2 separate regions of the Homo sapiens genome follow, and region 2 is linked to region 1. The links come from fine-mapping of genetic effects on gene expression. A gene starts in region 1. The other region holds a variant in brackets. All regions are shown on one strand. Distances are between the middles of the regions. Region 1 holds the start of KIFC3 (kinesin family member C3). Region 2 overlaps KATNB1 (katanin regulatory subunit B1).

Evidence for each region.
Region 2: its variant is fine-mapped to the expression of KIFC3 in whole blood (TOPMed, PIP above 0.99). The same link has a PIP of 0.9 or more in blood mononuclear cells.

What each region holds. Positions count from the first base shown.
Region 1 is chr16:57,797,694-57,811,983 of GRCh38, reverse strand. KIFC3 (kinesin family member C3) reads left to right here and starts at 9,493. Exons shown (of 20, transcript NM_001130100.2): 1 at 9,493-9,614; 2 at 13,702-13,912. The coding sequence starts at 13,741. It overlaps LOC388282 (a long non-coding RNA gene), which reads right to left and starts at 1,465. Exons shown (of 4, transcript NR_169553.1): 1 at 1,200-1,465. RefSeq lists enhancers at 1,251-1,310, 1,371-1,430, 1,621-1,750, 8,520-9,196, 9,874-10,550.
Region 2 is chr16:57,747,990-57,763,281 of GRCh38, reverse strand. KATNB1 (katanin regulatory subunit B1) reads right to left here. Exons shown (of 20, transcript NM_005886.3): 5 at 12,355-12,455; 6 at 11,980-12,021; 7 at 11,558-11,641; 8 at 11,227-11,342; 9 at 10,681-10,752; 10 at 10,354-10,504; 11 at 10,015-10,205; 12 at 9,763-9,893; 13 at 9,287-9,337; 14 at 8,285-8,352; 15 at 8,044-8,163; 16 at 7,788-7,937; 17 at 7,365-7,441; 18 at 7,216-7,290; 2 more. The coding sequence ends at 6,336. It overlaps KIFC3 (kinesin family member C3), which reads left to right. Exons shown (of 20, transcript NM_001130100.2): 13 at 1,012-1,142; 14 at 1,746-1,869; 15 at 2,111-2,240; 16 at 2,327-2,556; 17 at 2,866-3,000; 18 at 3,446-3,554; 19 at 4,129-4,157; 20 at 4,373-5,065. The coding sequence ends at 4,133. Among named protein-coding and RNA genes, the nearest start is that of MIR6772, 17 kb to the left of the region's middle. RefSeq lists a silencer at 5,823-5,972 and enhancers at 5,771-6,065, 5,654-6,293. The variant G/C (reference allele first, on the strand shown) is at 7,722.

The sequences.
Region 1 (14,290 bases):
GCAGCCTTGAACTCCTGGGCTCAAGTGATTCTCTGGCCTCAATCTTCTTTTTTTTTTTTTTTTTTGAGACGGAGTCTTGCTGTCACCTAGGCTAGAGTGCAGTGGCACAATCACAATCTCGGCTCACTGCAACCTCTGCCTCCCAGGTTCAAGTGATTCTCCGCCTCAGCCTCCCAAGTAGCTGGGTTTACAAGCTTATGCCACCATGCCCGGCTAATTTTTGTATTTTTAGTAGAGACAGGGTTTCACCATGTGGGCCAGGCTGGTCTCGAACTCCTGACCTCAAATGATCCACCTGCCTCAGCCTCCCAAAGTGCTAGGATTACAGGTGTGAGCCACTCCGCTTGGCCCCACGCCTCAGGCCTTCTAAGTAGCTGGGACCATAGGTATGCACTCCATACCCAGCTAATTTTTAAATGTTTTTGTAGAAATGGGGTCTTGCCACGTTGCCCAGGCTGGTCTCAAACTCCTGGCCTCAAGTGATCCTCCCTGCTCTGCCTCCCAAACTGCTGAGATTATAGGCGTGAGCCATCGCGCTTGGCCTGACCTCTGTGTAGGTCTCTCTCTCTCCTGTCCTCCCTCCTTCCTTCTTCCTTTCTCTCTTAAACGGCTTTACTGAGATATAATTATCATACCATAACATTCCCTGTTTAAAGTGTACAATCCAATAGTTTTTAGTATATTTACAGAGTTGTACACTGTCACCATAAACTAACTTTAGGACATTTTATCACGCCCCAAAGAAGCCCCATTCATAGTCACTCATCATTCTCCCTCCCAGGCCCTGGCAACCACTCAACTACTTTCTTTCAGTGGAGTTCCTTGGAGAAGCAACTGTGAACAGTGAAGCCAACCCCAGGTACTGAGGTGGGATGCTCCTGCCCTTGGATCAGGCTTTCAGCAAGCAGAGTCCCAGAATGAGGACCATCCCTTCCAGCTGGCCCACTCACTTCCTTGTGGCTGTAGCCCTGAGAAGGTCACCAGTCCACCCTCCTCCTTTACCCAGGGAGGGGCATGAGACCCAGAACAGGGAGGAAGTCTGACCAAGGTCACATCGTGGGTTGGGGACACAGCTCCTGCTGGCGGTACCCACCATCTCTGGCACTCCAAGCTATCTTCCCACAGCAGCCCCTACACATCCATAGGCCTTCCACTGGCCTCAGTCTCTCCATCTGTACAATGGGAATAATAACACCTACCACACATGTTGTTGCGGGGATTGAATGAAAGCAAAGGCAATCCTGTGTGTAAAGAGTTTTTCCCTTTGCCTGGCATGAAGCTGTCCCTCAGCCCATTGCTGAAGTTGAATTAGATTAAATTCCCGTCCTGGCATTCAGGGCCCTGCACATTCTGGTTGTCTGGGGTGGATGGAAGTTTGTCCCTCCCCTCCCTTGGAAGGTGGCAGATGGAAGCCACTGGAACCGCAGGATCCTTGCTGCTTCCTCTCGGTCACCTGGAAGCTGGTGGTGTCAGCGGGGCGGGCGGGAGGTTGACACTGGTGGCGATGACTCAGCACTGAGAGCTGTGGGAGTCTAGTTAATCAGCAGCGTCAAAACTTCCTGTTGCTGTTTGCAAACAAGGGCCACCCCCAGAGGAGGAGGACCAGAGCTAGGGGAGAGGCTGCGCACCACAGAACCTCAGCAAAGCGAAGCTACAGTTTAAAGGCAGCAGCAGCAGTGGTGCTAAGAGTTCAGCAGGTGGTCAGGGGCTGTGGCTATGGCTTTCCAGGAGCACGTGGCTTCCCTTATGGCCCCTGTCCCCATCTCCCCACCCAGGAGGAATTTTTTTTTCCCCCAGTAGTAGCTGATTGACTTACTGCAAGGAGCCCCAGTGAAGTGCCAGGGTGTGAGAGCAGGAATCATGGTGGTGGCACCAGATGAGACTCATCCGTCTAGGATGGGCCAGAGTGTTGGACCGCGGGGTACTGAGGCGTTCCAGGACTGACCTCAGAAGATCTCTGAGGGCTTAACAGCAGGCAGGGATTGGGAGCACTGAGTCAGTGCTCTCAGCCCCACCTGGCCTGGCCCAGCAGACAGAAACACTCCCGGCCTGAGCACCTGGCAGAAGAACCAGATACGCCCCTCTGGTGACAGCCATCGCTCAGATATCTTTATATATGCCTCATGCCTCCCAGGAGAACCAGCCAGGGCGAGAATTCCAGATCCAAGAGAAAAACTGTAAATTAGCGTGAAAAGTAGTTCTCGTCAAAAAATGCTGCCAACGACAGTGTAAATTTGGTACAGGCCTTCTGAGGGGCAATCTGGCAACATGTTTAGAAAGTGAAAAAAAAATGCTCAGACTCTTTATTCAGAAAGATTTTTTATGAAATTGACAACCTCTCTTCTCCCTTCCCTCCCCACACCAGGGAATGAACGGGCTGTGTGGGTGGCAATGGTGACAGCAATGCTGTTTATAAAAGTGACAAAAATGGGAGCTACTCAAATATCAGACCCTACGGAATGGCCAGCTCAGTCAGGGCACAGGCTCTCAGTGGAATATTATGCAGCCATTTAAAATAGTTTTTTGCTGGGTGCAGTGGCTCACAGCTGTAGTTCCAGTACACGGGAGGCTGAGGTGGGAGGACTGCTTCAACTCAGGAGTTTAAGGCTGCAGTGAGCTCTGATCATGCCACCTCACTCCAGCCTGGGTGAGAGAGCGAGACCCCAACTCTAAATAAGTGAATAAATGAAATACTTTTCAGCCATTTTTATTGAGTGCTAGGTGCGCCCCAGACACTGGAACCTCCATTCTGAATGTGACCTTGGCTTTATCCTATGATGTCTGCACTTCAGAAAAATGTAGGCATTAGCAGGAAAAAGTGACATGGAAAATGCTTATTATAATAATTAAAAAAAATTTAGAGATGGGAGTCTTGCTATGTTGGCCAGGCTGACCAACTCCTGGGCTTAAGCGATCCTCCCACCTCTGCCTTCCAAGAAGCTGGGACTACAGGCATGAGCCACCACACCCAGCACTTACATGATTCAAAGTAAGAAAAGGCAGAGTAAAAAATTCTATCCGGTCTTTGCCTCCCACTATAACTGCAGCTTGTGTTTGCAGAAATGCCAATTGTGTGCCAGATGCTGGGCTGAGGGTGCTATGTGCTTGCTCCAATTTACATCTCACCATAACTCAATGGGTTAGACACTAGCCCTACTCTCATTTTCACAGGAGGAAACTGAGGCACAGCAGAAGTGACTGAGCCAGTGAATGAGCTCAAACCCAGGTCTGCCTGGCCTCAGAACCACCTTTAGCCATCTCTCTATACTGTCTCTCCTTAACACAGAAATGACATCAGCTCAAGGTCAGATACTGGAAAGAAAAATCTGGGCCAATGACAATAAGTGAAGGGTGGTGGGATTTGGTGTTTTAGTTTTTGTGTTTTTCCTCTCTCTCTTGGTTTCTATTAGATTTGTGCAGAAAAAAAAAAATTTTAAGTTCAAAAACAAAAACTGCCACCTAGAATTTGCAGCAGGTGGGGAGAAGTGAATGAGGAAGTGGGGAAAAATGCGAAGGATGTTAATAACGCATGTGCTGGTTTAGAACCCGGAGCTATAACAATTTAGGAGCAAGGAGAGAAGCGGCAGAACACTTAGCAAGGAGGAGCCCGGCGGCTTCTGGAGGATGGTGGGAGGATCCTCGGGCTGAGAGGCGGGCCGGGGGCGGGGCTTATTTGGCCCGTGCTACTCTCAGGGCGGTTATTGCTAAATCTTTTTATTACCTGGTGCTTACGTCCATTATCTCCTCAATGTTTGCATTCCTCTCATTTTTTTAAGACTACAGGAAATGATAAAAGGGGAAAAAAAACCTCACAAAGCCTCCGTTTGCTTTTAGCCTTGGAGTGCTAGGAGGGAGGGAATCTCCGCCAAATTCCTCCTTGAGTCATAAGGCTTTAGGTTCCCCTAAACTGAGAGTTAGGGGAGAACTGTCGAGTTCAGTCTTTTTGGCCAATGCAGAAAGGCAGCCACCATTTGGATTTTAAAGCAAGGTGGTTTCCTTTTTATTTTCTAGTCCTCTTAGAAGGTTTTTTTTTTTTTTTTTTTTTTTTTTTTTTAAGACAGGATCTTGCTCTGTTGCCCAGGCTGGAGTACAGTGACACGATCATAGCTTACTGCAGCCTCAAACTCCTGGGCCCACGCCATCCTCCCGCCTCAGCCTCCTGAGTAGCTGGGACCACAGGCCTGTGCCACCGCGCCTGGCTTGTTGTTTTGTAGAGACAGGGTCTCAATATGTTGTTCAGGCTGGTCTAGAACTCCTGGCCTCAAGCGATCCTCCTGTCTCATGAGCCACTGTGCCTGGCCGGCAAGGTGATTTTCTTGGGGGAAAGATTGCCTTGGTTCTCTGAAAATGGGAGAACTGTTTTCCCCTGTTAATACAGCTTCTAGAAAGGAAGGGACACAGGGAGCAGGAAGGTGAGAGGGAGAGAAAAGAGTGAGAAAAGTACCATTAGTTTAAATATCACTTGAACACCTAATGCTTGCTGAGCTGGGTCTAGAGCAGACAAGGATGACAGGAATTTACAGTCCAGTCAAGGGACATCCAAGACCACCACCTCTCCATGCCCACTGAGGAGCCTGGCTTCCTGAGAGCTTGCAGCTGTGAGCCTTGTGCCAGACCCCCTGAGGTGCTCAGGGTGAGTCATGTGCCCAAGACCTGCAGTTGGTGACATGCAAAGCTGGAAACCAAATTCATGCTTATGGGGCTGGGTGCAGTGCCAGGCTCTTCACCTCCAAGAGCTCTTCCACGGGGTTTTTTTTTTTCTTTTTTTAGACAAAGTCTTGCTCTGTTGCCCAGGCTGGAGTGCAGTGGCATGATCTTTGCTCACTGCAACCTCCACCTCCTGGGTTCAAGCAATTCTCCTGCCTCAGCCTCCTAAGTAGCTGGGATTACAGGCGCCCACCAGCACATCGGGTAATTTTTGTATTTTTAATAGAGATGGGGTTTAGCCATGTTGGCCAGGCTGGTCTCGAACTGCTGACCTCAGGTGATTGCCCGCCTCAGCCTCCCAAAGTGCTGGGATTACAGGCGTGAGCCACCACGTCCAGCCTCCTCCGTAGTTCTTTCTGCGGTGCTCATGATGAATGATTTCAGAGGGATTGGAAGATTGGAAGATGTGGATTCAAAAAAGCAGCTAATTGGGTCAGGATTACTTAATATGCGGCTCACTCCAGAATGAGTTTCTCCAACTTCAATAAATGTTCTGTTACCCAGAAGCATGAGAGGACACACTTTTCACAGCTGCAGGGCACTCCTTCCTGACCACATGGAAATAATTGCTAAGGAGCCTTCTCTTACTTCCTTTTGGTAGAAATTATCATTACTTTACATGGGAAGAAAGTCTGTTTGGGTACATTTCACGCACCTGTTCTTCCCTTCTGAATTCTATGGGATCTATGGATTTATTCAATGAACATGTCTGTGATACCAGGCCCTGAGCTGGGGTCAGCTGAGGATTTCCCTGTGATCAAGTAACGAAAGGGTCCTGTCCTGAAGGAGCAGATGGTATACACAGGAACGCCATCATGATCCAGGGTCGGGGATGCTGCAGGGGGTGAGTTGAGCCCGCCTGCTGGTGCCTGGGAGGGTCAAAGAAGGTGACCTCTAAACTTGAAGGAGGGACAAGCAGGTATGGAATTGGCCAGGTAAGGGTTAGTGGAGGCAGATGAGAATGGGGTGAAGGAGAGGGGCTTTCCAGGCAGGGAGGACAACATTTGCAAAGGCTCGGAGAAGACTTGATCTGAGGTTAAATCATTTAAAATGGGAAAATCATGTAAATCTTATCTGTGCTTTACTCTGGGTTGCTATGAGAATCAGATTAAACACAATCTGACTTTTCATTCCCCTTCTTTCCTTCCCTTTGGGGAGCAGAACTCTCAGGCTCTTGGCCACTTCTCTGACGAATGCCTGAGCAGTAAAGGGTTTCAGGCCCTCTGAACACAAAGATGGGTCAGGTGTGGTGGCTCATGCTTGTAATCCCAGCACTTTGGGAGGTTGAGGCGGGCAGATCACCTCAGGTCAGGAGTTCGCAAGCAGCCTGGCCAACGTGGCAAAACCCCGTCTCTACTAAAAATACAAAAATTAGGAGTTTGAAAGCAGCCTGGCCAACATGGCAAAACACCGTCTCTACTAAAAATACAAAAATTAGCTGGGCGTGGTGGCGCATGCCTGTAATCCCAGCCACTTGGGAGGCTGAGGCAGGAGAATTGCTTGAACCCAGGAGGCAGAGATTTCAGTGAGCCGAGATTGCGCCACTGCACTCCAGCCTGGGCAACAGAGTGAGACTCTGTCTCAAAAAAAAAAAAAAAAAAAAGTCTATGGGCATACCACCGTGAACACACCTGATCTTGTCTGAACACAAAGATGGCGCTGCTAGTCCCTGCCTGGGGATGGGGTGGATGTGGGCGTGGAATTGCAGTGTTCTGGACACTGTCTTCTGTCTGGCCCTCCCTGAGACAGCTGTGCCTCTGCCAGAGTTCGGCAGGAAGGGTCAAGGCTAAGGCTGAACCCAAGAGTCCTCCCTCAAGGGTTTAGGACTTCAGTGTTGGAATGGCCAGGTTTCAGCAAAACTTGCACCTTTCCCGGGGCCAGGAGAGTTGGCAGCCTCCTATGCAAATCATCAGCGAAGTTTCTGGGTTAGAAATGACCTTGGAGTTGGTACGTAGTTCCTGATGACATTGTACATTCTTAAATTCCAACAACTGGGATGGGCATGGTATGGTGGCTCATGCAAATAATCCCAGCACTTTGGGAGGCTGAAGCAGGATGATCGCTTGAGGCTAAGATTCTGAGACCAACCAGGGCGACAGAGCTAGACCCCGACTCCACACAATATTCTTTTTAAAAAACTGAGTCATGCTGGGCACGGTGGCTCATGCCTGCAATCCCAACATTTTGGGAGGCCGAGGCAGGGGGATCACTTGAGGTCAGGAGTTCGAAACCAGCCTGTCCAACATGGTGAAACCCTGTCTCTACCAAAAATATAAAAAATTAGCTGGGTGTGGTGGTGTGCGCCTGTAATCCCACTGCACTCCAGCTTGGGTGACAGAGCGAGCCCCCGTCTCAAAAAAAAAAAAAAAAATTGAGTCAGGCACAGTGATTCACATCTTCACATCTGTAATCCCAGGACTTTGGAAAGCCAAGGTAGAAGGATCCCTTGAGCCCAGGAGTTTGAGACCAGCCTGGGCAACATAGTGAGACACCCCCATCTCTACTTAAAAAAAAAAAAAATTAGCTAGGCACACTGGTGTGTGCCTGTAGTCCCAGCTACTCAGGAGGCTCAGGTGGGAGGATCACTTGATCCCAGGAGTTCGGGGCTATAGTGAGCTATGATTGCATCACTGCACTCCAGCCTGGGCAACAGATCAAGATCTTGTCTCAAAAATGCAACAACCATGAAACAAGTAGTTTTTACGTTTCAAATCGGAGTTTTGCTAGAATTCCAAAAATACAACCTCCTTACACTTCAATTTCCTTTTTCCTTCGCTGGTGCTTTGATCTTAATAAGTTGTTATACCCATATGCATCTGATAGTACTGTGTGAGTACCTATTGGAGTCATAGCTCTATCACACACTGCATTTGTGAACAAACTTTCTGAGGCTCAGTTTCCTTTCCTGAAACACGGGTGTCCTGAAACAGTACTGGTGTTCATAGGGTGTTCAGGGTTAAATGGGATTTTGTTTATAAAGAGCTTAGTGCTGTGCCTGACACAGTGTTAGCTTCAATAATGGCATCTATTATGTACACAGGAAAAAAAAAGACTTCTAAAGTGTTGGCAGCATTTATCTCCAGTGTGTGGGATATGGTTACAATGAACATCTATTACTTTTGTAATCAAAGCAAAAGAACAATAAATGTTATTATTAATTTAAAAATCTGGCTTTGGCTTTGGTGGGAAGGACCTACAGTTAATGTCAATGTACTCAATCCCTGAGTAAGAAAAAGTCTCCAGTTTTGAACCAGGACTTTAAAGACATTCTGTCCTCCCCATCCCCCGCCCCATCAACTCATAGGGACTATAATCAAGGGAGATAGATACTAAATCAGAATTCTAGAGACATTTTGCCTTCATCCACCCTTGCGGTCCCCTGGATCACTGCTGTTTGGAGGGCAGGCAGAGGAATTCAGAGATCATAACTCCCCAAATAAGGCTTTCTCTCCCATTGGAAGGGTTCTCCAGTGTGGTGTTCAGCTGGAAATCTAACTCTCTAGGGAATGATTCCAGGAGCGTTACATTCACCCTCTATCAGGCCTTCACTGAGGAATCTCAGTTGTCAAATAAAGCATGCACTAGGCTGCTTCCAGCTGGGGGACTGTGACTGTCCTGCTCTGGCGTCCAGAACAATCTGAGGCCCAGGCCCTTGGCTCCGTCGCTGGTCGAGATTCTTGACTGGCAGCCCAGCGCCTGGGCGGCAGCAGGAGATAGAACCCACCTGGAGTTGCCCGACCCCCTCCAGTCCTCTCCTTGATCTTCTTGGGCCATCCCCTGACAAGCAGGAAGGGACAGAGTACCCGCCCTCCTGGGATTATCTGCAGAACCGTCAGCCTGCATGGGCTGGCTTCAGAGTGACTTGCTTTCTCCTCTTCCGCACCCGGGGGTGTGGAGAGTGAGGGAGAATATTGCTGCTGGCTCTGGAATAAAATGCTGCCTCTGTTTGGGAGACAAAGAACAGAGTGGCTCCTCCAGGTCAGCTGTCTCTCCCGGCTGGCAGGCCCCTGGCCTCCCCCAGGCCTCTTCTGAGGCTCTAGGTGCCCCAGTAGCAGGGCCTTCTGCAGCAAGGCCGGGAACTGCTGCACCATTGGTGTGTTTTACCTTAAGGGACTCCAGGCAGCTTCCTTGCTGGGAAGATATTCATTTGCTGGGGTGGGGCTGGGGGTGCAGAGGTAGGAAGTGCTGTGGCTAGAAGGCGGCCTGGCCAGCGAGTAGGTGGTGGAGCGAGTGAGAGCGTGTGCGCTGTAAACAGTGTGAGTGCATGTGCGCCAGCGCGTGCAAGGACACGGTAAGGGATGTACATGTATTGTCTCGTGAGTAAGAGCTTGTGTGTGTGTTGGGATGGGAAGACACGTACTGGTATGAGAGCCCGCGTGAGAAGTGTATGTGTGAGTACTCGCGTGGAAGTTTTGCACTCGGGTTTGAGGCTGTGCAAAAGTACGCATGGCTCACCAGGTGTGGGGCTGTGTGGGCTGCCTCGTGTGTGCCAGCCCGTGTGCAGGCCTGTTTTGTGAGAGCCTTCAGGGAACGCATGAGCACGTGTGCCAGTGCGAGTGCGGGACGCGGGGAGGCGGGAGAGACCGAGTGGGAGGCCCCGCGAAGGAGTGGGAGTGGGAGTGGGAGTGCCGGCGGGAGACCTGCGGGGGCGCGCCCGGGCTGACGCGTGCGCGCCAGTGCGCGTGAGTGCGGGCGCGCGCCGCCGCCCCCCGCCGGGGTCGGAGCCGGTTGCCATGGGAACGCGCCGCGGCCCGAGTTAATCATTTCCTGTGGAAAGTGTGCGGGAGGGGCGCGAGCGGGCTGGCCGAGGAGGAGGCGGCGGCGTGGAGCTGCCTCCTGCCGGCGGGCCGGGCCGGGCCGAGCCCCGGGCGCTGCGGCGACGCCTGGATCCTGCCTCCGCCAGGCCGGTGAGTGGGGGGCCCGGGCGGGCTGGGTGCGAGCGGGGCGCTGGGCTCTGCCCGGCCCGCCGTTTGGGGCGCCGCGTCCGGGCCGGCCCTGCCCTCGGGACCCCTCTGCCCGGACCCGCTATGGGCGCGGGGAGGGAAAGGCCCGGGAGACCCAGCCCTGCGAGGTCCCCTCCAGCGCCGTTCAGCCCGAGTCGAGGACCTTGCTGGGAGCTGGGCACAGGGGCGGCGTGTCCCACGGGATCCGAGCAGCCTCGGGACCCCGTTTGGATTTTATTGAACGAGAAGAGCGCAGACCCTACCCGGGATGGGCTTGTCAATCGGCGCCGCCCTCTCCCCTTCCTGGCGTCTTCCCCACCCCCAGGGCTCCCTGGAAGGCTGCCTTTGGGTCCCTCCCACCACGTCCCTTGGGGAGTTCGCTTTTTCCCTGGCAGGGCCTGGGGCGGGGTGCGCCCGCCCAGAGGTTAGGAAGAAGGGCCTTGGCCGGTGCCCTCCGGGCAGTGAGGAATCGGGCCATTGACAGCCGCAGCAGTTGTGAGGGTCTCAGCAGGGAGGGCGATCCCAGGACCACCCCTTTAAGCCCAGCATTGCTAGTTAGAGCAGAACTCTGGCTGGTGCAGTGAAGGGCCTGGTCCTGGGAGATATTAAAGAGGAAGCTGTGTTTAATTAAATTCTGGAGTACCATTTACTGCCACCCAGCCCCCACCTCCATACCCCAACACTGTCTCAAGATTGCGGGTTGTGGCCACCCCTGGTCTTTCACCTTCCCCGGCTTTTCCTCTGCCTGAACAGGGTGAGCACCCATTCTTTCCCAGACGTGTATTCCCCATGCCCTTGTTAGAGTAGCCGTCTCCTTGACCAGGGAGAGTCATTTGCTAGGAATGCAGTCTCAGAATGGGGCCCTGCATTTGCAGTGAGTGGACTTTAGGGGCACAGGGTGGTGAGTTCTGCTGTTCACAGGGGCACCAGGGAGCAGAGGGTTTGAAATCTAGGTTGCCCTGGAAAGCCCAGGATAGATGATGGTGTGCAGGGAGGTGGCATTCCCTGTACAACTTCCTTGACCTTCTGCCTGCTCTCCCAGGGCGACCAAGCCCTGCTTGCTGCAGTCTCTGAGCAGCTGTCCAGCCTGTCCCCCCAGTCTTTGCAATGTCCCTGATCTAGGGCAGGGGGAGTATTGCAGCTCTGCTGTCCTGGTCTAAACCCAGAGAGGCAGAGACCCTCTTCCCCAGCCAGGCCCTCTGCATTCACCCACCACTGGAGCAAAGTAACTGAAAAATAAAATTTTGGAGCTCTTTGTATATGCCAGTATTGTTCTGAACACTTGGCCTTGTCTAATCTTTAGAGCAACCCTATAAGGTGGTGTTCTCCCCATTTTATAGATGGAGATAATGAAGTACGGAGAGGCAAAGTAATTCTCCCAAGGTCAGACATCTAGTAAACAGGGGAGCCAGGTTCTGAACCAGTCCCACTGCCCTCCCCCACGAATCCTAGGTTGGTAGAAGTCCCCGGACACCAGGTTTCATCTCAGATGCCCATGTAAATGAGAGAGAGTCCTGCTTTCTTGGCCCAGAACCCTGGGCTTAAGATTCCTTGATACTTTTGACCTTCACACCCCTGAGGCTGCTAAATTCAGCTGCTTTTTCCTCTTCGGGATCTAGCACACGCCCTTCCTCTTTCTTCCCGATATCTTCCTGGCTGCCTCCTCCACTTCCCTTCCTGATAACCGCAGAAACGCTATCTCCTCCTGTCCCTGCCCCTCAGACTGAGCTGAGCTGATCTCCCTGAAAGTCTTCTCTGTCCACTGTGGAGTCAGCCTCCAATGCCCTGCACTGTCTCACCTTCCCAGCAGCCGAGACTGCAGATGGACCTGCCTTGCTCCTTCCCTTGCCCATTGGACAGCTGGTCTGCAGGGTTGGTTGTGTGCCCAGCTCTGTGCCAGGCAGCCTGGAGAAGAGGACATTTGGCTGCTCCCCTTGGTTTCTTCCACGCCACACTGGTCCATCTCAGTTTCCTCAGTGGAGCTGGCCCACGTATTTAGATCAGCCTCTGCCCTGTCCTTTGGCCCACATTCCCATCCCCTTCCCAGTAAGACTGAACCTAGGAGCCTCCTAGTTGTTCTAAGTCAAGGAAGGAAGAGACCATGGCTTCCTCGCCAGGTGCCTGGCATTCTTCCAGGGTTGGGCTCTGCAAACATCAGACACCAGATCTTCAGGCCCCTAACCCCTGGACCCTTTACTTTATTATTTATTTATTTATTTATTTTTGCCTCTCAATGCTTTAGTCACTCCTGTCTCTCTGTCTCCCCAATATGCTCAACTCTCCCCCTATTCTAGACACCACATCCTCTCCTTCCCATCCTAGCCAAACACCCCCAAGGAGAAGGAAGTGGCTGCTTCCTCCCCCAGCTCCCGCCCCACTCTTTGAGCCCTCCGAAGTTTGCCATCTGCCCTTCTCCCTCCACAGGCTCAGGCTTTCTGCCTGTCTGGGCTTTCAGTCCTCCACGTCTCTTTGGCATGATGCACTGGGCACTGACCAACCTCTCCTTCCCACTTACACTTCAGTCACTTCTGAAAACTCTATACTTGCCTGGAGCTCCTGTCCCTCTCTCAGCTTCCTTCTGCAGCTTTCCACCCCGCAGTGAGCCCTGTTATCACATGGCTGTCTCCTCTTGCTCAAGCTTTGATGATTGCCTCCTCACCTGTGGCGTTGGTGGCCCTGTTTAGCTCTGAGTCTGTGTCCAGCCCTGACCTCTCTTCCAGGCTTCAGTTCAAGCTTTTGTGTGTGTTCATTTCAGAACGTTCACCCCACAAGCCATCCCAGAGTTCTTAGTGTGGGTGCAGCTGCAGACTGGGTGCAGTGGGGCTGCAAACATGAATGTGTGTGGGCCCATAGTGGGTCAGGGGAGGTGGACACCCTTCAAATAGCTATCTTCACTTCCTGGCAGGAAGTGGCCACTGCAGTGACGGATGGGGAGAGTAGTCGACAGCCCAGGAAGCTCCACTAGGAAGTCCTTCAGTTACCCCCACCTCAATCTTAAAACCCCATGTTGCCTCTCCAAGCTGACTTCGCTTCTTCTGTAAATGACATTACTGTCTGAGTCTGGGACTGTAGCATGATCACCTTAAATGTCCTCAAGGTTGCTTTGCACACAGTAGGTGCTCAATAAAGACTTCTGCAGGGAATACCTGAGCTCTGTTCATTTGTTCAGTTCATGAGGGACCTATCCCTGACTGAAGCTTTCTATCCCTGACCAATGCTCTCTGCCCCCCTCCATTCCCCACACCACCTGGTGCCTGGCTCGCACCTGCCGCCTCCAGTAGCCTGCTCAGACTGTGAGGGTTTTTTTGAAGTGTTTATCTCCCTTCTGACTGGGAGTTTTCAGGCCTCATCTCTTCTGATCCAAAAGGACCCCTGGCAGATGCCTGGCACCCAGTAGGCATTATTAAATGAAGACTGAATGAATCTTTGTATCTCAACACCCATACGGTGCCTGCCACATGCTAGGCACAGAGCGCAGGCTAGTCGAATACATGAATGAGAACTTACTGTATATAGACTTCACTTGTCATTGGCCACAGTCAGGGCCCTTTTGAGTCCCTCCTCAGTGAAATGTTAATATTCAGAGCATTCACTGCTCTGCTGACAGGCCTTAGGCAGAGCAGCCTGAAGCCTAAGGGTTAAGCATGTGGTTAAGTGCAATTAGAAAATTAGATGTCTTGGAGGAAAAGGATTAGACTTACGGAGATGCTGCTGACTCGCGGTGCCTCCTCTGTGTGGGGCTAGGACCTGGCTTGTCCTCAGGCTCCAGGCTCAGCTGGGAAGGGCTCAGGTGTGGGGTCTCAGGCACAGCTGATATGCAACTTTCGCACTTCGGAGCCTCCGTATTCGGAAACAAATACCCCCAAAAGGCAGCAGGCCCCATTTCATCCTGCGAGCCCTAGGGTCTTTGGGGGACAGTGCAGTTGGAGCTGCTGCGCTGGGTAACCAGCGACCGGTGGGGCGTAGACCCTTCCAGATGGCTGGCTCTGCCCGAGGTGCAGTTGTGCTGGTCCACGGTCTTCAAGCTTATCTCCCCTTGTTCTCTCCGCAGGCTGCCTGGTGCCCCGAGGAGGCTGCTGAGCCCCAGGCCATGGTCCCCTCTCGCAGGACGTGGAACCTGGGAGCCACGCCCTCGCTGCGGGGCCTGTGGAGAGTGGGCCGGGCCCCGGAGCCCGAGCCGGGGATGGCTCGCCCCGCCCCAGCCCCAGCCAGCCCGGCCGCCCGCCCTTTCCCACACACCGGCCCGGGGAGGTTGAGAACTGGTGAGTCCGCATTTTTAAAATGCCTCTTTATTTCCCTTCCTTCCTCCAGATACCAGAGATGAGACTGAGGTTTCTCACCGGTTCCTAAGCCCAGTCAGAGCTGTCAGGTAATTACAGGGTAACCGACAGCCCAGAGCCAGGCGGGCGTGGAGCCGGAGCGTCAGTCTCGCCGGGCGCTCCTTCCCTGCGCCCCTGTCTGGAAAAGAGGAGACCTGGAAGCCGGGTTAAACTTTAACACGGGTCGGGCACAGAGCAGGGGGAATCAGCTGCATTCCCTCTGGCCAAGCTGGTCAGAGCTCTGCGGGCTGCCGTCCTTGGCCAAGAGCGTGTGGGCTAGCTCCGGTCTCTGCCCAGGCTGGTAAACAAGGTAGGTGAAGT
Region 2 (15,292 bases), 49 kb after region 1:
AGTGTTGAGGTGACCACCAGGAACATCAGAGCGTTCATCCTCAAGTGTATCTGCTGATGCATAAGGTGTATCAGGCATCGTGCCAGGCACAGCTGTGACCCAAACAGTCCCTGCCCCCACAGAGGGCCCTCCCCACAGGGCCAACCTGGCTGTGGGGAGACAGCAGGGTCTACACAAATCAGCAAGTGTCCTGTCAGGCCAGGGAGAAAAATAAAGCCAGGAATGCGGAACTGACTAGGGGGAGGGACAGGGCATTTGGGGGTGCTGGGCGAAGGAGCAGCCTCCCTGAGGGGGCATCTTGGGAGCAGCCTCCCTGAGGGAGATGACGGAGCCGGCCAAGGGGCGGTCAGAGGAGTACCCGGGGCAGAGGGAGCTGCAGGGCTGAGGCCAAGAGGCCAGAGCATGCCAGGGGCACCTGAGGCCCAGCCAGGAGGCCCCTGTGGCCGGAATAGAGAGTGAGTGAGAGGTGCTATCAGAAGAGGGGTGAGGGCCAGGCTCCCAGGGCCTCGAGGTCCCGGGTGGGGACTCCAGGTTTCCTTCTAGAAAGGCCGGCCCACCCGTCCTTCCCCAGGACACTGGCCCGCTCCTCCTTGTGCCTCCTCTCTACCACCCACAGAGCCCAGGTCTCAGCCTCCCTGAGACTGAGCGCCTTTCTGGGCAGTGGCGGGGTCATTCATTTCCAGTGCCCCTCCCAGGTGGCCCCACAGGGCCAGGCATGCATCTGGCCCTCAGCTGCCCTGTGTGGGGTCTGGGCCAGGCCCCTCATCCCAGTGCTGCACTATAAGTCTCAGGGTAGTCCTGGCAGGGCGATGCCATTTTAATGGTGGGGAAATAGAGGTGCAGTTGCCCGCAGCTGGTGGAGGGCATTTTGGGGGACAGTGGCAGGTAGGTAAGAGCTTTGGGCAAGGAGGCTTGCTTGTGAGGGGTAGTCAAGGGGCTTTGGGGACAGACACCACACGAGCGTCTTTGGGGACAGGCCTGGCTTACTGGGGCCTTTCCTTCTGTCCCCAGGGGACCGCTGAGAACCCAGGTATCAACCAGCGGGCCCTGCAGCTGCTCTTCTCCGAGGTGCAGGAGAAGGCGTCTGACTGGGAGTACACCATCACCGTCAGCGCTGCGGAGATCTACAATGAGGTCCTCAGGTGGGAGCCCCAGGGTGTGCGGAGCAGGCCTCAGGGGCAGCTTTGGGGTCCTCCGGGGTGGTGCTGGAACGAGGTCCTCAGGTGGGACCCCCAGTATGTGGGGAGCAGGCCTCAGGGGCAGCTTTGGGATCCTCAGGGGTGGTGCTGGAGCAATGGGGGATAGGAAGTGGGGTCTTCCTGAAGGGAGTGTAGGGACCAGATGAGGCCGTCAAGGTGAAGGGAGTGTAGGGACCAGATGAGGCCGTCAAGGGACCTGGCTGCAAGTCCTGACTCAGCCCAGTGGGTTGGATGGTTCTGGGGGGAGGAGGGGCTCTCTCTGAGACCCAGGCAATCCTTGCCCCTACCTGTGGGCTACACCAGGTGGCCATGGGTGAGAGTGGGCAGCTAGGGGCCCTGCCAACAGGGGCTCATTGTATTGTGGAGTGAGATCTCCACGTCTTCAGCTGAATGCGGTGGAGGAGCTGGAGGAGGAGAGATGCACTCAGCTGATGGCTGGAGAAGGCTTCCTGGGTTGGGGGAACATTCCTGGCTGGGGGGCTGGGTGCAGTGCAAACAGCAGCTGGAAATGGGAGGAGGGGGTGACTGTCTCACCTGCCCCTCCAGGGACCTGCTAGGGAAAGAGCCTCAGGAAAAACTGGAGATCCGGCTGTGCCCAGACGGCAGTGGGCAGCTGTATGTACCAGGGCTGACTGAGTTCCAAGTGCAGAGCGTGGACGACATCAACAAGGTGTGGAGGCGGGAGCCCCTGACCACAGCCACACTGCTCTAGAGGACACAACTGGGTTTGAATGTAGGCTCTGCTGTGTCCTAAGCACGCACCCTTGGGCAAGTCCGCACGCCTCTCTGAGCCTCAGTTTCCTCATCTAAACTGCGGAGGGTGGTGCCACTCCTCATGGGTGCTTGGGGCCAGGTGACTCTGAGGACCCCATTCTCAACGCTGTGCCTCTGCCCTCCTCCCAATCCCCCAGGTGTTTGAGTTTGGCCACACTAATCGCACGACCGAGTTCACCAACCTGAACGAGCACAGCTCCCGCTCGCACGCGCTGCTCATCGTGACGGTGCGAGGCGTGGACTGCAGCACAGGCCTCCGCACCACGGGTGAGAGTGGCAGGCAGCCTGGCCTGAGGATCCCCACAACCCCAAGGGGCAGGGCAGGCCTGATCTGGTGGGTGCCTTCCCTGCAGGGAAGCTGAACCTGGTGGACTTGGCTGGCTCGGAGCGCGTGGGCAAGTCGGGGGCCGAGGGCAGCCGCCTGCGGGAGGCGCAGCACATCAACAAGTCGCTGTCGGCTCTGGGGGACGTCATTGCTGCCCTGCGCTCCCGCCAGGGCCACGTGCCCTTCCGCAACTCCAAGCTCACCTACCTGCTGCAGGATTCGCTTAGTGGTGACAGCAAGACCCTCATGGTGGTACAGGTGAGGACCTTGGGTTAGGGCGGGCCAGTCCCTAGCATGTAGGGGCTACGCTAGCAGTGAGACCCAGTCACCCCAGGCTGTGCAAATGGACCTCCCCGCCCCTAGACCTGGCCACACACACCCTGTGTAACTCCCAGTCCCTCCTCTCCACCTTTGACCACAGCACCTCTGCCATGTTGCCTGCCCTCCCACCCCATCCCTCAGGCCTCTCCAGGAAGCCTTCTGACGGCCCCAGCTGTGAGCTCCCTCTCGTGACCCTGTTGCCCCTCCAGCTGGCCCGGGTGGGCAGTGAGCTCTCGTGTCCCCTAGGTGTCCCCCGTGGAGAAGAACACTAGCGAGACGCTCTATTCCCTCAAGTTTGCTGAGAGGGTGCGCTCTGTGGAGCTGGGGCCTGGGCTACGCAGGGCAGAGCTTGGGTCCTGGTCAAGCCAGGAGCATCTAGAGGTACGGGGACTGTCACAGGCCTGGCTCAGGTGGCCCTGGGTCAGAGACTTTGGGTCATGGCAGGAGCAGGGAGCTGGGCGGGGACGTCCTGAAGCAGTGGGGGCAGGGAAGCTGCCGGAGTTGGGTGGAGCTACGGCTGGAACCCACAGCCAGCAGCCTCTTCAGTACAGGTATTTCTTCTTGGCCTCGGAGGTTCCTGTGGGGTGACGAGCTGGCCGTGGGGGTGGCACATAGTAGATGCTCAGTGGTAACTAGTTGACTTCTTTACATGAATTATCTCATTTAATTCTTGCCATAACTGAGGCTGGGGCACAAACATCATGCCCATTTTGCAGATGAGGAAACTGGGTGTTAGGAGGCAGGGCAGGGGAGTAGAGAGAAGCACAGCAGGGTGGGGAGCCAGGGCAGCCGTGGCCCCCGCCCATCCGCCCTTCCCTGCTCACAGTGGGAGCCGGCTTGTCAGACGCCACAGCCCTCGGCACGGGCCCACTCAGCCCCCAGCTCTGGGACCAGTAGCCGCCCTGGATCCATCCGGAGGAAGCTGCAGCCCTCGGGTGAGCCTGGAGTGGCAGTGTGGGTGGGGAGTCTCCCCAGGGTAATAGTCACCAGGCTGCCCTTACCTGGATGGGCTTTCTCTTTTCTTTCCTTTTTAAAAAGTTCTTACACCTTCTCCAGAACCTGTTTTACAACCTCCCCTGCCCCCAGGCAGTAGTCAGGGCAGACAGTGCTGTGTCCGTTCTGCAGGTGGGAAATGGAAGGTCTGTGGGAAGGGGGCAGTGTAAGGAGACCCCAGCCTCTCAGCCGGGGGTGCTGACTCTACCCTGGGACCCTGCTCTCTGAGCATGGGCTGGCTGAGCCTGTGCAGTAAGCCCCCTCCAGAGCAGCCCCTGCAGCCCCCTCCCTGTGCCTCAGCTGCCCCGGGGGTAGAAAGGGCCGGGCTTGCCTACCTCCTAGGTGAGGAGTGAGCCCCGCCACAGGACCGGGACCCAGGGCTCCAGCCCCTGTTTAGCCCAGATCATGGGAGGGCCTGGCCCATCCTTGAGTCCAAAGGGGTAGCAGCAGCAGGGTCTTGTGGGGTACTGGCCCAAGGCAAGCCCACCAGTGAGACGCCTGTCACTTTGATTTCAGCCTGACGGCTGGGGCTGCAGAGTCTCTAGGTGAGTGTGGGGCCTGTGGCCCAGGGCTGCCCGCCTGCCTGCCCGCAGTGGGTTGCAGGGCTGCGCTGGGACGTTCTGCTGTTCAGAGCTGGGTCTAGCCCCTGCTGTCGCTTGTCTATGTGCTTTTGCTGGGTTCCCTCCTGCTCTCGGTGGCAACTGCTGTGGGCTGCCGGTGGGCAAGTGGACAAGAGGCTGATGATCTCATGCCCCTGCAGGGAAGTCGCGGCCACTGCCTGTGTGACGGATGTGACCCCGCTGGGCCTGAAGCTGGGCCCTCACTGGCCTGTCCCTGCTGCAGCGCCAGGACCCCCGGAGGTAGAGGCGAGAGTGGAGGCTCTTCTTCTGCCCCGTCTCCCCTCAAAGATGAGAAACATGTTCAGAAGGAAACGGTGTCTCTCGGCTGTGGCTCTGAGTGCAAATTGCATGGGCGGAAAGGCGGGGGTGGCTGCTCTTCCTGGCAGGCCTGGGCCATCAGCGAACTGGGCCCCGTGAGGAGGGCGGGAGTGTGGAGGAGGGTGGGCCTCTCACCCAGGCTTTCTCGGCCCCTCTCCTCAGCTTGCAGAGCTGGCCAGCCCCCTCCTTAGGGGGTGGGCGAGGAGCCTCTGGGCAGACCCAAGAACCATGGGGACTGGGGTGGGTTGGTGGCACCAATGGCAGCCCTCCCCGCCCCTCTCCTTCAAGGAGGGTTCCCGCAGCTGGGGGGTGTGCGGAGGCGCATGGCCTCCCGCCACGGGGCCGTGCTGTGTTTATGGCTGGCAGAGGCAGCCAGCGGGTGGGGGATTCTGCTGCTCGCTCACCTGCCTGGCTCGCTGGTCTCTCGAATTTTCTTCCCTCTGAAATCCTATTTAAGAACTTTTGGAAGCTTAGCCATTTTTACTTATTAAAATAAAAGAAGCCTTTTTACACAAGTATGGTCTGAAAAAGTTGGTCTGTGAGCCCCTCTTGGTCTGATTAGGGGGACGGGGCACTGGCAGGTCTTGTGGACTCCCCCGCTGGCTGGTCACCCCACAGCCCTCTGGGATCTGTCCTCTAGGTCAGTTAGGGACATGCGTCCTTAACAAACAACTGGGGGGAGCCTGCGCTGTCCCACCCTGGGTCACTTTCTCTGTTGTTTGTGGTCACAGTCGCCTCATGCGGTACCTACCATGTGCCCACGATAACTGACCTCCCAACAGGGGCATTCCTCCATGTTACTGATGGGAAGGAAACTAAGGCTGGAGAGAGCTTCAAAGGCTATCAAAGCCTTGCCCAAACCATGCTGGGCTTCCAGGTTACTGCTGGGCACCACCCACTGCCCACTCTTTGCCCTGGCCTTTTCCCTCTTCAGTGAACTGGCCAGAGGTCCACGCCACCTTCCTCCAGTGCCGAGGACCCTGACCACCCCGGGGCGGGGCTGTACCTGGTCCCTGCCTTGGGAGCAGGAGGGGGCCCACCTGTCGCAGTGCCCACGGAGCAGGGAGCCCTTTCCCGCCAGCCAGTGCTGGGGACTCCAGCAGGGAGTGACAGCTGATCGGAGCCCTGCTCAGAGGAAGGGGCAGGTGCCCTTCTAGTCCTGCCCCTGGAGGCATCCTGGGGGTGTCCATAAGACAGCTTGAGTGTAGCTGAGGTGGGGAGGAACGGGCTGGTGGGGGCCACCCCTAACCTCAACACCCAGTGGTGGAAGGGTGGTTGCCGCCTCCCCTTCCTTCCCAGTCTGCACTGGCTGAACTGGTGCTGTCCCAGAGGCCTGATTCTCTGCTGCCCCCTGCTGGCCACATGGCCCAGAGCCCCACCCCCGGGCTTGGAGGGGGTGTGGCCTCATCTCAAACCATGGGGCAGGCACTCCTGGGCCCGGGGAGCCCTGTGGCCAGCAGAAAACATTCCCCACAAGGAAACCTGGGAATAGTTACAAATTTAATAAAATTTGCCTTATAAATTACAGCAGCAGCCCCAGGGCTCAGTTCGCTGCCCCAAGAAGCAACAGTTGGGCAAAGCTGGGCAGCTATTGCTGGAGAGAGTTGTCTCAAGAGTTCAGGGCTGTAGAGGTGGCCAGGGACCAGCATCACCTCCTCCAGGACGGCCACAGGACAGCAGCAGGGGCCAGGCAGAGGCTCATGGGCCAGTGGGTGCACAAGGAACAGGAGTGGGGGCTGAGGCCAGGCCCTGTGGGCTGCCGAGCGCCCCTGCCCACTGCTTTCCTCAGTCCAGACTGGCCATGAGCAGGTGCAGCTCGCGGAAGGTACTGCCATGGCGGCCGCTCAGGCCTGACTTGCTCTTGACCAGGCCGCTGATGCTCTTAAGCTGCTTGTAGCAGAGCCGGCACTTATGCAGCCTGTAGAGAGGGCAGTGCCTGAGGGGCTAGCTGGCACCACCACCACCCACACCCAACCCCAGGGCCTTTGCTGTCCTAACTGCTCCAGCCCTTCCTCCCAAGGGAAGGCGGAGGCCCAGAGGGGAACCACCCAGGCCCTGCCAGGGATTGTGGGCACAGCCAGGCCATGGAGGAACCCAGCTCTGGCTAAGCCCACCCACACCCTGAGCCATGGCCCCAGACCAACGCCTCCTCTGTACTCTGTCCCAGCAGGACTGTCAGTAAGAGGGGCCCAGGCCTCCAGGCCTTTGTCCCCTCACCTGTTGTGGCACCCCTGCCCCCAACACATGCGCTGCCCTCACCTCTCCTCCCTGCTGATATCCACACCCACAGAGGGTGGGGCCGCCAGCATGTCTGTGATGAGGGGCAGAAACCGCTGCAGGATCAGCTTCAGGGAGGTGCAGCCCGTCTGGACGTAGCTTTAGGGGGAGATGGATGAAGTCACAGATGGACCAAGGGCCACAGACAGAAAGAGAAACAGCAAGGAACAAAGGAGGAGAGGGGCAGAAACAGACACAGACACACCCACACATACACCCACACACGCCTGTTTCCACTCCCACCTCCGGACTGTTGAGGGGCAGCAATGCTTCACAGCCAGCTCACAGGAACACCCAGGCTCTTGGGGGTCCTTCCCATGGTTCTGGAGGAGGCTTCTTACCTCTCCCCTCCCCCTGCTTCAGGCAGGCATGGCTTCCCCACACGCACCTCTCATACTTGCTCTGCAGAAGCTTCTCAATCTGTGGCAGGACGGTGGTGCACAGGTCCAGCTTCCACAGGGAGCTAGGAGAGGCCAGGACATGCTGCCATCAGCCCAGCCCTGCCCCTCCGCCCACTCCCCCTCTGCAGCCACTTACGCTTTCTGGTTGACGATGTTCAGGAGGTCCACCACCACCGACAGGTCGTTGATGGCCACAGCGGAGTCCACCGACGTCTGTGCAAACAGAGCACCGTCAGGGGTGGGGCAGTGGGGGACAGTGTGGCCCTGTGAGGGTGAGGGTGGGGGTACGAACGTGAATGTGGGTGTGCTGATGGGGCTGTGGGTATTCAGCACTGCACCTAACGCAATGAGTGTAAGGCCAGGCATGTAAACAGATGCTCACTAAACGGCAGTCTGTGATGATGATGATGATGGCGGAAACAGATGGTGTGACGTCAGGGATGGCCTATCCCACACTGTCCCCCATGGGTGGCCTCTTCTTGTTCTGCCCCAA[G/C]CCCGGGCAGGCAGGTGGCAGGGGCAGGGGGGCGAGATGAGGCCCTGTGCAAGGGTGGGCACTTGCCTTGATGTCGCCCATGGTCCACACAGCCCGCACAGTGTCCAGGTTCTTGTGGCGGCTGGTGAGCACCACACACATGGTGTCGTGGCCTTTGCGGATCTGTGACATGGCATCCTCGTCCACCAGCTCGGCCTGCTGGGGGATCTTCACGGCCTGCGTGGGATGGACACCCAGATGCTGGCATGGGAGGAGCCAGCAGCAAAGCTCTGCCCTCCACCCACAGACCTCCACCCATGCCTCGAGCTGGGCTCCTACTCACGGGCAGGAAGTCGGAGGCCTTCAGCCCGATGGGCTCGTTCCGGGTGGCAGGGATGATGGCAGGCTCAGCCTTGGGTGCAGGTGTGGAAGCAACCACTGGGGGCCGGGGCAGGACCTCCAGCTGAAAGTGTGAAACTCAGCGGTTGCCGGCCTGGGGCCTCCCTCTCTGCCTCCCGAGGCACCCCCAACCCTGGGTCAGGACCTTCTCTAGGCCCCACACCATGCTCCCTCCATGGACATACATTTGGCACCGGGAACTGCACATCCATGGCAGGGCTGGGCTTTGCTGCCTCCTTTGCTGTGGCTGCGTCTGGAGGCAAAAGGAAAAGATGACTGGGTCCGGCCAGAAGGGCCTGGCAAGAAGGGCAGGGCTCAGGGCGGGACTCTGGGCAGCATCTGCAATGGGGGGATGGAGCAGGAGCATGGGGGAGGCTGCAGGCCAGTGGCGTGGGGGTTCCAGAGGACCTGGGGCAGGCCTGGACCTGCCTCCTCCCTCTCCCCCAACTCAACCTTAGGTCTGCCTGTGGGTGGGACCCAGGGGGCTCTAGGATGTGGCCATCCTGTCCCTTCACTGGCATGTATGTGGAGGGGGCTGGGATGACTGGCAAGATGGAAGTGGAGGCTCCTAGGAAAGCCAGGACTGACGGCAAGGACGGTCCCTGAGGGGAGGGCAGGGGTACTCTACAGGACAGGTGGCCCCATGCCTGCCCGTTCTCCAACCACAGTGCAGATCATTTTTCTCCCTTCTTAATCCAAACCCCCAGCTGAGGCCTTGTGGGCCTGACCTCTTGCTGGGACTCGCCCCAGCTCACCTCCTCTCAGCTCCCTTCCTGCCAGAAGCACTTCTCTCTCTCTCTTCTCACTGGCCCCCAGGCCTTGACAGGCATTGGGCCTCCTGAGAGCCTCCCGATCATCCCGTCTACAGCAGACCCCATCTAAGGTGGGCCCCCAGTGACTCCTCTCCATCCTCCACAGCCCGAGTGCCCCTGGCAGGCCCCCCAGTGTGGTGGTGTCCATGTTTGTCCCCCACACACCAGGGCACAGGCTCCTACGGGGGCACTATCGGTCTTGCAGGGACCTGGCACATAACAGGCAGAGGGCAGAGACCCAGCGGGAGAGGGTGTGGGTCGTGTCCTGAGAGGGGAGGGTCCTGGGAAGGGGCTTGTTGGGAGGGTTCACAGGAAGAGAAGATGAGGGACGGGGGGGCATCAGAGACCTTGGGAAACCAGGCTCACCCAACTCACCGTCCTCTGGGGGTGCAGGGAAGGGCTCACTTCTCCGGGGTGGCGTCCGACCTGCAGAGGAAAGAGGCCCCTGGCTGTGAGCGCTCCTGGCCAGGCCACCTGGGACCCAGGGCCCTGTCCAGAGTGCGGGGGACGGAGGGTAGCTCCCAGGCATGCGGCTGCAGACTGTGGACCCTGCTCCTGGTCCCAGGAACCCTCAGTCCTGCCCCTCCCAGCCCACTTGTCCCTGGCAGGGCAGGGACTGGGACACTGAGCAGCTGCTGGGCCGCTGCTGGGGAGTGCCCAGGCCCCCCTCTCAGTTCCATCAGAGCACAGCCTGGCAAGGCCCAGGGAACGTGAGGACAGGATACGGAGCCCAGGTGTGGGTTAGGAGGAAGTTAAAGGGATGCGGAGCCACAGCAGGCTACCCTGGAAGGACCCCCAGCCTCCCTTTCACCGATGGGGACGCTGGGCTGGGGGCGGGAGCCCGGCCTCACTGATGCTGTTCTTGGGCTGGAAGATCTCGTTGTAGTCCTCGGCGTTCTGGATCTCCGCGCGGGACTCGCGCTCGTCCCGGTCATCCTCGCTGCTGGGGCTGCGGCGCTCGCTCTCTGAGTTCTGCTTCACCCTGGGAGCGTGAGGCCAAGCCCAACGGAAGCAGGTGCCCTGTGAGGCCCAGGGCTGGAACTCCGAGGCTTCCCCTGTGACAGTCCCTCTCCTGGGCCCCCGAAGGCCCCCCAGGCCCTCACCTCTGAGGCTTGCTGCAGGTTGTGCTGGGCCGCTCATAGATGCGCCGGAGGGGGGCGCTGGGGTTGGGCAGTGGCTGTGCCAGGGGCCGGTGGTCCTGCACAGGGTCCCGGGCCACCGTGCCAGTCCTGGTGACACGCGTCAGATCCACCACGTAGGAGGAGACGTTGCTCTGGGAGAAGGCCACACCTATCTGCAGAAAGCGGAGAGGTGGGGCTGGGACTGCAAGCCGAGGGGGCAAAATCCCAGCCCCAGTGTGGGGGTAGGAGGAGGGGCCTGGGCTGGAGGGAGGCGGGTGGCCCTGTGGGAGTGGGGGGCGGTGGGTGCCATGGCTCTCTCACCAACTGGTCATTGCAGATGGCCAGGTCGGCCACCTTGCCCCAGTTGACGAGGACCACATCAAAGCACCGCTCAGGTTCCCAGCCGTAGACACGCAGTGAGTCCTGGCAGCCGCTGTACAGGCAGCAGCCGTCTGGGTTGAAGAGGACGCTCCTGGGCCAGGCGAGAGATGGCCGTGGGTCCTGTGGCACCCAGCCTGGTCCCCACCCCGAGGAATCCAGAGGGCCCAGGGCAGGGAGGGCGCAGCAGCGGAGATGGGAAAGGCCCACCCACAGCCACGCCCCACTGCCGGGAGGAGCGCTGGGCCGCCCACCCCACAGCCTGCGTACCTGACGGGCCCAGGCTCCCCTTCGATGCAGCTCACCACCTGGAACTTCTCCAGGTCCCAGAAGCGGATTGTCCTGCAAAGGCAGCCAAGCTGTGCTGCGAAGCCTATCCCTCATCCTGGCCTCCACATGTCCCTGGGAAGCCAGCTTTTCTCTAGAAACCTCTCCCCCAGGGCAGGGCCACCAGGAGCAACATCTGGGGCAGAGCTGGCCCTGACTTTGCAAGGGGGAGGCTCGGCCCGATGGCCCTGGCCCCAGGGTTGGCCCCAACAGCCACGAGCCTCCCTGCCCTATGGGGTCCCACTAGATGCCTTGGGTCCCAACCTGCCCATGAAGCCACAGACCTGGGACACTGGGGCCAGGGAACCAGAGCCAGGGGAGATGGACCAGGGTCCAGTCCTGGCTCGGCTGAAATCCAATTCAGTCCACACAGGATCATCAGACGTATGACACCCCAGACAGCGACAGACCGGCAGTAGAGACACGCACAGAGGACAAGGCGGTGAAGGACAGCAGTCACAAGCAACTCGCCTCGCTCCTCCTCCTCACCTGTCAGAGCTGCCGGAGGCCAGGAGGTACTCGTTGGGGTGAAACTCGACCACGTTGACAGGCCCCGTGTGACCAGGGAACTCAGACATCATCTTGCCGGCAGTGAGATCCCAGAGCTGGAGGCAGGGCAGGGAGGAGGTCAGGGTGACCAGGCATCTTGGCTGCCCACCCTCCCTCTAATCCAGGCCAAGCTCTTTATCCACAAGCTACCTTCCACTCGGGATAGGCTTGGGACATGTGAGCCCGATCAGGAGGGAGGTGAGGACTCAGCCTGCTGTGATCAGCAGACCCCAGCCCCCAGCCCCTGGGCCCAGGTCAGGCCGGGAGCTACCTTCACGGTGTGGTCATCTGCGGCCGACGCCAACCACTTCCCATCGGGGCTGAACCGGAGACACCGCACGGCCTGGCTGTGCCCCTGAGGGAGGACACGGCATGAGCTCACCCTGGGATCCTGGGCCCAACAGACCTCTCCCTGCCTCCTCACTCCTATGGGACCCCTTCCATCTAACAACACTGGTTACCCGCCTGGTTCTGCTTGGAGCAGTTTGATGAACGTGGCTCTAGGGGATTCATGCAGAGCCAGGGGATCCAGGTGGGCCGCCCATGGCGCTCCTGCTCAGCTCCAGGTCTATGTTTTATGTTATCACCCATGTGGGACAGCCGTCCCCTCCACCCCCTGCTGGGGTCTGGGCACCACACCACACTCAATGCCCGCAAGGTGCTCATGGAGTCACCGACAGAGCGCATCCTTACCCTGTATCGGAAGACACAGCCTTTCCTCCTGATGTCCCAGAGCTGTGGGGGAGAGAGAAGCAGAGGGGCAGAGTCAGGAGAGGTCAGAGCCACGACTGGAGGAAGGTGTGCAGTCGTGAGCAGACGGTGGGGCCCAGCCTTCTCTAGGTCGTTACTCCCCACGGAGACAAGGACAGAAACTGCTCACTAAAGCTGGCATTCTGAGCAGAAGCATCTGGCAGATAGATGCCTGCCACCCGCTTTCCCTAGGATGGTGTGGATGTGGCTGCAGAAAGGGAAGAGGTCCCCTCAGCAGGCATCCAGCACTGAGGGCCGGGCCGGGCTGGTCCTGCCACAGGCCCAGCAGGAGACACGGGGCACGGACCGGCCTCTCACCTTGATGTTTGTGTCCTGGGAACCAGAGGCTACAAACTCGCCGTACGGGTGGAAATCCAGGCTGCAGATGTTGGCTTTGTGTCCCATGAGTGTGCGAAGAACTAACAAGAAGGAAAGCAGAGACAGTGGCTAAGAGGCAAATGAGAAGGCTGGCAGAGGAAGGGCTGCTGTGGGCATTTGTGTGTGCGCTTTTGGATTAGCTGCACAGAAAAATAGAACAATAACACACATTTTTAAAACAGTAGGAAACAATCAAGGGTCCCACCACCCTAACAACGAATTTTCTTTTCTTCCTTTTTTTTGAAAAGGAGTCTTGCTCTGTCGCCCAGGCTGGAATGCAATGGCGTGATCTCGGCTCACTGCAACCTCTGCCTCCCGGGTTCAAGCAATTCTCCTGCCTCAGCCTCCCAGGTAGCTGGGATTACAAGCATGTGCCACCACACCCGGCTAATTTTTTTATATTTTTGGTAGAGATAGGTTTTCACCACGTTGGCTGGGCTGGCCTCCTGACCTCAAGTGATCCACCCGCCTTGGCCTCCCAAAGCGCTGGTATTACAGGTGTGAGCCACTGCGTCCTGCCAACAACTAATTTTCCCACATTTCTCTTGAGAGGTGACAGCCCTATGTTACCTCAAGTCTGCAGAAATTGTACCACACTCTCCCCACAGACTGTGCTCCAGCGGAAGCAGAACCAGGGAACCACCACACTCAGTTCAGGCCCCATGGGTGTGGAGCTTATGGTTTGCAGGGCACTGAACCCCACCCAAGACAGTGCAAGGAGAGAGACAGACCAGGAGAGGTTCAAGCTGGGAGAGAAGCTGCTTGGTTGGAAAGAGAAATCCAGGAAGGCTTTATGGAGGAGGTGGTATTTGAGTAGATGTCAGTGGGTGGAGGATGAGGGATGCTGTTAGGTAGATGGAGGTGATGGGCAAAGGCCCTAAGAAGGGCAAGTGGAGGGCATGGCTGGGGTGGCCCTGGTGCACACACCAGTCTTCTTGGGTGACCTCTGTCCAAGGGATCTTGAGGGTGGCTGTGAGGACACACTGAGGAGCAGTGAGAACTGAGAGGACACAGGGAGGACACGCGAGGACCAAAGAACTCCTGGGGTGGGGCCTGATCGCCTCCCACTGCCCTAGGAACCACATCTCCTATCCTTTCCTTGAAGGTTTTGCAGGCATCTCCATGGCCAGGAGCGGCCCAGCCTGGAGGCAAACCTTGTGTGTTTCAGGGTGTCCTCCAGTACCACTCAGATTTGTCTCATGTTTCCTGCTTTTGGAAAGATTCATAATTCACTATCTGAATGAAACTGACCATCCCAAGTGCCAGGGTCAGGAAATGTGGGAGTCCAGCCATTCTTAGTTTTGAGCCAAGGTGCAATAGGTCACCTTGTGAGGTAGTGAGCTCTCTGTCAGAGGAGGTATTCAAGATTCCATATATAACACTTTACTGCAGAGTCAAGATCCAAGCACTGGGTGAATTAAATGAACTCTACTGTATGATCTTCTCTACCCCCAAAGTCAGGATGTGGGCTCTGGCATCAGACAATACTGGGATCAGCCTTGGCTCCGCTCCTCACTGGTGGTGTGACCCTGGCCAATCACTTACTGTCTTTGGGCCTCATGTTGGGTCACAGAATGGAGTAAACATACATAAAGTGCTTAGCACGGGCTCTGCACATGGTAAGTGCTCAATAAATGCCAGTCTTAATTAGTCCCATTCACATTTCTTCCTGCACAAGGCCTGCCTTCTGCTCTTGGCTGTCCCGCAAGCTGGGCCTTCTCTCCTCCTCCCCAGGCCTCAGTGCCCCTCTGCAGCTGGCCCTGTCTGGCGCTGGAGCTGGGTCTGGATACTTTCACATCCCTCTGGAGTCTGTCGAATGCATATCCAATTCACCTGCACCAGAATCTCTGCAGCTGTCACTCCTTGCTCCGTGTAGCTATCAGGTGCTGCTGGGGGCTGGGCATTGCCTCCTGGCCAAGGAGGCCACGCTGGCTCTTGCTCCAGTCCACACCCGCTCCCAGCCCACTCAGCTTGGATCCCACAGCAAGGCTTCCAAAATCCTGCCCTGCCCAGAGAGGATGTGGCGGAGTCCCACCCTGTGTGGGCTGGCTGCATGAAGCACCGGCCGCCCTCCTGTGAGATCCCGTGGGATCCCCTGCGCTGAGCTACCCTTGCCCTCTGGCTGCGCTGTGGAAAGCAGGCAGGACCACATTCTTCCGGCTTGACTCCTGCCCTTGCTCTTCTGTCCCACGAAGGCCTCTGATGCCTACATTCAATCATGGGATCTAGGAACTGCAGAGTGGAGGGGCTTCCGGGGTCTGTCTGCCCCACACAGGAACCCCCAACGCCTCCCAGCTGAGCACCTCCTCAGCCTACATCTGAACCCTCCAGTGATGGGTGGCCTTTCAAGGCAACCGATATGAGGCAGCTCTCTCTCTCTCCTTTTTTTTTTTTTTTTTAAAAAAATAGAGATGGGGTCTCCTTTTGTTGCCCAGGTTAGTCTTAAACTCATGGCCTCAAGTGATCTTCCTGCCTTGGCCTCCCAAAGTGCTGAGATTACAGGTGTGAGCCACCATGCCCGCAGAGCAGCTCTCTTTGGAACCTTTCCACACCTGGGGCCTCAATTTGCCTGTCTGTCACTGTCACCTGCACTCTGGCGAGGGGGTGTGGAGGGGGGCCGGAGGTCTTAGCTCTACCTGCTGTGCTGATGGCAAGTTTCTCTTCCATCCAATGGCAGAACAGACAACACTGGGATGGGAGTCCTGACACCGGGATTCAAGTCCCAGGCTCTGCTACCTGCAGCTACTGGGGTTTTCCTAAGCTCGGTGCTCTCCCTGGGCCTCTGTTTGCCCATCTGTCAACCTGGCTGTCCATCGGAATCACCTGGAAGCTTATTAAAATCCAGATCCTGGGCCCACCCCAGTACTGAATCGGGTTC